Regions from separate parts of the Homo sapiens genome. Here region 2 is linked to region 1. The links come from fine-mapping of genetic effects on gene expression. A gene starts in region 1. The other region holds a variant in brackets. All regions are shown on one strand. Distances are from middle to middle. Region 1 holds the start of LINC00921 (long intergenic non-protein coding RNA 921). Region 2 holds the start of ZNF75A (zinc finger protein 75A).

Region 1 (2,906 bases):
CCAGATGCATGTGCCTTCTTTGAGCCAAACCATTACCTCTCTGGCTCACAGCATGTTACTAGATTTGTTCAAAAGGAAAAAACAGAAGTTTCAGCAACCGTACTCTAGGGTTCTGAGGGGGCAGAGTTTGAGAATCCTTGCTCTAGCCCGCCTCTGCTGATTATAAGGGAGAAAACGGCAGTGCTGCTGTTAGGCTGATGTATCTGTTCCTTTCACAGCTTTGGTCATAACTGGTAATTACCATTTACTTGTTCTCAGCCTCCTTGGAACAGCGATCTTGCCTGACACGTGCACCCTCGCACGTGGCACAGTAAGTGGGACACATTAGGCACTCGGAAAATATTTGCTGTAAACATGAAAGAAGGGCGACAGGCTAATAAAGTGTGGAAGGGTTTTGGGGTCAGCACAGCCCCGGGACGTCCCATCCCCGTGGGCCGCGGGCCGCCCGGAATACGACGACTCCACTTGCCGGCGCTGCTCCCGGGATACCAGCGACAACAGCGGCTCAGTCCCGGCAAACGGCGCGTGGCCCCTCCGGCGAAAAGCAGCTATAGGCTGTTGCGGCTGCCAATCAGACCAACAGAGCCGCGACTCGGAGACCTCTGGGAGACGTGGGCCCCCGCTAATCCGCCCTCCAATTGGCTCGCGTGCTCCCGGGGCGCTCTGGGAGATGTGTTTCTGGGAGTGTTCCGCGCATGTGCATGCGTGAGGGCGGGGCGTCGGGGTCGGGCTGGAGTGTCTGTCGCGCCTTATGTGGGCCCCTCGGCAGAAGACGCACTTTCGGCAGAAGCCGCACTTTTGGCAGAAGCCGCCCTGGGTCCTTTCCCTCCCGCAGGCAGGCCGGGACCCCGGCGGGAATTGCGTGCAGGTCGGGTCTCGCTTGACCCCAGCGCCTCCCCGCGTCCGGGCACACTGCGGACAGTTCCTTTTTATTCTCTACCGCTACTTCCTCTTTATCTTCTGCCGCTCTTTCCACACGTCTCCTCCCCCAGGCCGCTTCCCTTTGGGGCGCCGGGCCAGGGAGGGGCTGCCGGACCGGAGACCCCGGACTCGCGCCGGTCTCCGCTCGGGCGTGGGGTCCGTGGGGCGTCGGCGGGAGGGGTCCTGGAGGAGACGGCTGTGCCGGGGCGGGACCCCCTGTCCTCTTAACAGACGCGCCCCTGACAGTCGTGCCAGTCGCCGCCCTGGGCTTTGGGGACGTCCGAGGACGCAGCTGGCGGTTCCTCCCGCGGTTCCCGGCACTGTTACTTCCCCGAATTCCCAGAACAACCCATTTGATAGGAAATGGAAACTGAGAAAAATCGAGTAATTTACTCACGTCACACGGCCACCAGATATTTGAATCTCGTATTTCCCACCACTTCGTGGCTTCCAGGCTCATAAACAAGAAGTTGCAAAACAGGGTGAGGCGTGGGAATGACAGCAGCACGGGGCGGGGAGTGGAAGGGCGGAGCACCTTAGAGGGCAGGATTCAGCAAACGGAACCTCAAAGGAAACAGTGTCAGTGCTGCTGCTTAGTTGGTAAGAAAACAAAGGGCCGGGCGCGGTGGCTCACGCCTGTAATCCCACCACTTTGGGAGGCCGAGGCGGTCGGATCGCGAGGTCAGGAGTTCGAGACCAGCCTGACCAATATGGTGAAACCCTGTCTCTACTAAAAAATACAAAAATTAGCCGGGCGTGGTGGCGCGCGCCTGTAGTCCCAGCTACTCAGGAGGCTGAGGCAGGAGAATCGCTTGAACCCCGGAGGCACATGTAGTGAGCTAAGATCGCGCCACTGCACTCCAGCATGGGCGACAGAGTGAGACTGCGTCTCAAAAAACAAACAAACAAAAAAAGGGAGTAGCTGCCTTCCAGACACAGTTTTGTTATTTTTCTGCCCCTTTCACTAGCCTGTCAGCCCTTTGGTGGCCGGGGATTGCGTGTCCAAAGCCTGGCTGCTAGTCAGGTTCCTATAAATATTGGTAGGACAGAGCGTATTAAAGTTTTTATTTTAAGATTTTTAAGCACAAGAAAGTTGAGAGAGTAACATGAATACTCACGTACTCTCCACCTAGATTTAATAATCAGAAAAAATTATGTGTGTAGGCCTTTATTTTTTACAAACCCTCTTGTTTAACGTTACCGCCTTCCAAATGAAGCTCATTGGTGAGTGGTGTGGGGATCTATTCAGAGCCCCATGACTGCAGCCCTTCAGCAGGGTTAAGGCCACCTGCCACACCCCACTTTGGGAAGCTGGCTTCCTCTCCTCTCCCTCCGTTTCCAAGCTGCTCAGGAGGTGCCCTCAGAAAGATCAGTTACAATTAGTGTTATCTGCGTAGGGGACTGGGCAGCAGATCTCATTGATCTGGGCTGGGATCGGCAGGTGGGTTGGTCCAAGTTGAGAGGGAGATCCTGCAGAAGCTCTTAGCTGCTGCAGGATTCAACACTAACTCCTTAAGGTAGCAACAAGGGCCCTTTGTAAAATCTGGCCAGAAACAGGTATCTTAGATGCATCTTCACACCCGCCAGTATCCAGTCTACCCTTATCATGTCAGCCCTGCTTTCAGAATCACCCAGAATCTGACCCTTCTGCCTCCACAGTGGTTCAGGGCCCTGCAGTCGCTTTCCTGCATTGTGACAATAGATTGCTTTCTCCTCTCTGTTTCCACCTTTCTCATCTCTTGTCTCTTATGGAAGCCAGAGTGTTCTCTTTTCTTTTCTTTCTTTTTTTGAAACAGTCTCACTCTTTCACCCAGGCCAGAGTACAGTGGTGCGATCACAGGTCACTGCAACCTCCGCCTCCCAGGTTCAGGTGATTCACCTCAGCCTCCAGAGTAGCTGGGACTACGCGCACATCACCACCACACTCAGCAAATTTTTGTATTTTCAGTAGAGACGGGCTTTCACCATGTTGGCCAGGCTTATCT
Region 2 (2,906 bases), 43 kb before region 1:
GTTTAACAAATGAGATCCTGTCTGGTCTTGTACAAAAGCAATAAAAGGATCTTCTTCCTAAAAGCACTGAGGACAAGAAAAAGAAAAGTATGTATCAATAAGAAACTCACATGAACCTCATCACTTGCGACTTATGAGAGAAAGAAGAACAGAAAAGGTGTCCTGTCTTCCCTTCAAAATCAACTAGCAGGCCCTTTGTTTTTCTCCTTTTCTATTATTCAGCTGAAGCACAGCACAAAACACACAAATGTCAGTGGACAACTGTCTTTTTTATAAAAAAGAAAACAATTTAGGAAAGATTGGTGGGTAAGAAAATTGGCACCCACTGGCTGAAAGGTATTTTGGGATTTTCCAAGGATTTAACTGGTGTGCCTCCTATCCCATCTTCCCCATAAGAAAAGAATAGGAGAAAATAAGATTAGGAAAACATTCTGAGATTCTCTTAAATTTCAACAGATCATCCCAGTCTGTCTCTAGTAAGGGGAGTACAACTTTTATGACCCTTCATCCTCTTGTGAAGATGGAAGCCTTCACTTTAAAAATATTTTAGGCCAGGTGCAGTGGCTCATGCCTGCATTCCCAGCACTTTTGGAGACCGAGGTGGGAGGATCACTTGAGCCAGGAGTTTCAGACCAGCCTGAGCAACATAGCGAGACCCCGTCTCTACAAAACACAAAATTTGAAGAAAAAAAAAAAAAATAGCCAGGATGGTAGAGCACACCAGTAGTTCTAGCTCAGGAGGCTGAGGTGGGAGAGTCGCCTGAGCCCAGGAATTCAAGGTTGCAGTGAGCCATGACCTCATCACTGCACTCCAGCCTGGGAGTTAGAGCAAGACTTTGTCTCTAATTTAAAAACTAAAAATAAAGGCACCTTAAAAAACAACATTTTAGATTTTCCATTGTAGGAATACTGGCAAAAGAGCTGAGACGGTGAGATCAAAATACAGTAGTATCCCTTCTCCAAGGGGGGTAAGTTCCAGTACATTCTGTGAATACCTAAAACCCCCAACAGCATCTAACTGCATTATACTATTTTCTCTATGTATACATAGCTATGATACCTTAATTTATAAATTAGGTACAATAAGAGATTAACAATAAAACACTGTAGTAAGAGTTATTTAAAACTGGCGGTGCGCCGTGGCTCATGCCTGTAATCCCAGCACTTTGGGAGGCCTGACGTGGGTGGATCACCTGAGACCAGGACTTCAAGACCAGCCTGGCCAACATGGTGAAACCTTCTTTATTGTAAACACAAAAATTAGCCAGGTGTGGTAGTGCGCGCCTGTAGTCCCAGCTACCCAGGAGGCTGAGGCAGGAAAATTGTTTGAACCCGGGAGGTGAAGGCTGCAGTGAGCTCAGACTGTGCCACGGCACTCCAGCCAGGGCAGCAAAACGAGATTCCATCTCCAAAAAAAAAAAAAAAAGTTATTTAAAACTTATGAACTGTTTATTTCTGGAGTTTTCCATTTAATATTTTTTGGATGGCAGTTGACAGCGGGTAAGTGAAACCCAGATACAGTGGGGGGAGGGGGTACTACAGAA[A/G]GTAAAAAAGTAGCCTATTTTCAGACAATGTCTCCCAAGTAAGCAACAAGATGCTCATCATTCTTTGCAACACACATAAAGGGTGCCATGCAGATGATTTATACGAATTTTGTTTTTTTTTTTGAGATGGAGTCTCGCCCTGTCACCCAGGCTGGAGTGCAGTGGCGTGATCTCAGCTCACTGCAACTTCCACCTCCCCGGTTGAAGCCATTCTCCTGCCTCAGCCTCCCGACTAGCTGGGATTACAGGCGCGTGCCACCATGCCCGGCTAATTTTTGTGTTTTTAGTAGAGACAGGGTTTCACCATCTTGGCCAGGGTGGTCTCGATCTCCTGACCTCGTGATCCACCCATCTTGGCCTCCCAAAGTGCTGGGATTACAGGCGTCAAACACCGCGCCAGGCCTATATGAATTTTTAACTGTGCTTACTTGATCTGGAGAAAATTACAGCTGACCTCTGTTTACAAAATATCAACTTGTAAAAAAGGATATTTTATTTACAAAATATCAAGTCGTATTTTCTTTCTGTCGCTGATGTTTATGAAATATCAACTCCAACAGGAGTTGGTGACGATGAAAGTGAAACTTTCTGCTGACTTTGTATTTCTCCAAAGGTCATTTAGACTTCTAAGGGGGGCTGAGGAGAGCCGTGAGCCTCACTTTTCCTGAAGTGAGCCAGCAGAAACGGCACCGAAATTCTGCCCAGGATGCCACCGGTATTCAAAGAAGTGGCCAGCTCCTTGCTGCCCACCCCGGTTCCAGAAGCAAAGAGACACTTCCTATGTTTTTGCATCAGTAGAAGCTGCTAGCCCTGAGGCTCAACCGACCGCATGACATCGGCCGGACACGGAAATGCCGGCGGAGGCGGGAAAGAGTCTGCGGGCGCAGCTGCAGGCACTGCTGCCCGCCAGCACTCGGATTCGCCACAGCCTGTGTCTGCGACAGGCGTGCCCGTGGGCACTGGGCAAGCGGGCAGTGTCCCAGCGAGCTTCAGCCGCGCCTCTGGGATACAGCTGCGAAAAGCGGGGAGAGAATGGTTTCTCGTGCCCGACGGTGGCCCCGCCTCAGGCTCCAGCCGCGCGGCCCGGAAGCGCCGCGGCCACCGCCTACGGAAAATGGCTGCCTCCCTGCGGCCGCCGCCGCTCCAGCGGCTCCAGGGTCGAAGCCATAGGGGAAGCCGCTTCTCGGTTACCTCGGCCAGCTTGGCTTCCGTGGAGGCCGCTCCTCGCTTTCTGAGGCTCAAACGCAAGCCACCGCCCGAAAGGCCGCCGATCTGAGGAGCGCAACCGCCAGCCCACCGCTGGCCTACCGCAGCCCTGTCCAGGTACAGAGCCAGAGCGCCGGCCGGAAGTGGAAGTGACGC

What was found.
Region 2: its variant is fine-mapped to the expression of LINC00921 in hypothalamus (GTEx, PIP 0.98).

What each region holds. Positions count from the first base shown.
Region 1 is chr16:3,262,296-3,265,201 of GRCh38, reverse strand. LINC00921 (long intergenic non-protein coding RNA 921) reads right to left here and starts at 1,434. Exons shown (of 2, transcript NR_033904.1): 1 at 1-1,434. RefSeq lists enhancers at 454-523, 674-773, 1,214-1,373 and a silencer at 1,014-1,193.
Region 2 is chr16:3,305,473-3,308,378 of GRCh38, reverse strand. It overlaps ZNF75A (zinc finger protein 75A), which reads right to left and starts at 2,882. Exons shown (of 7, transcript NM_001302109.2): 1 at 2,736-2,882; 2 at 1-66. RefSeq lists an enhancer at 2,859-2,906. The variant A/G (reference allele first, on the strand shown) is at 1,545.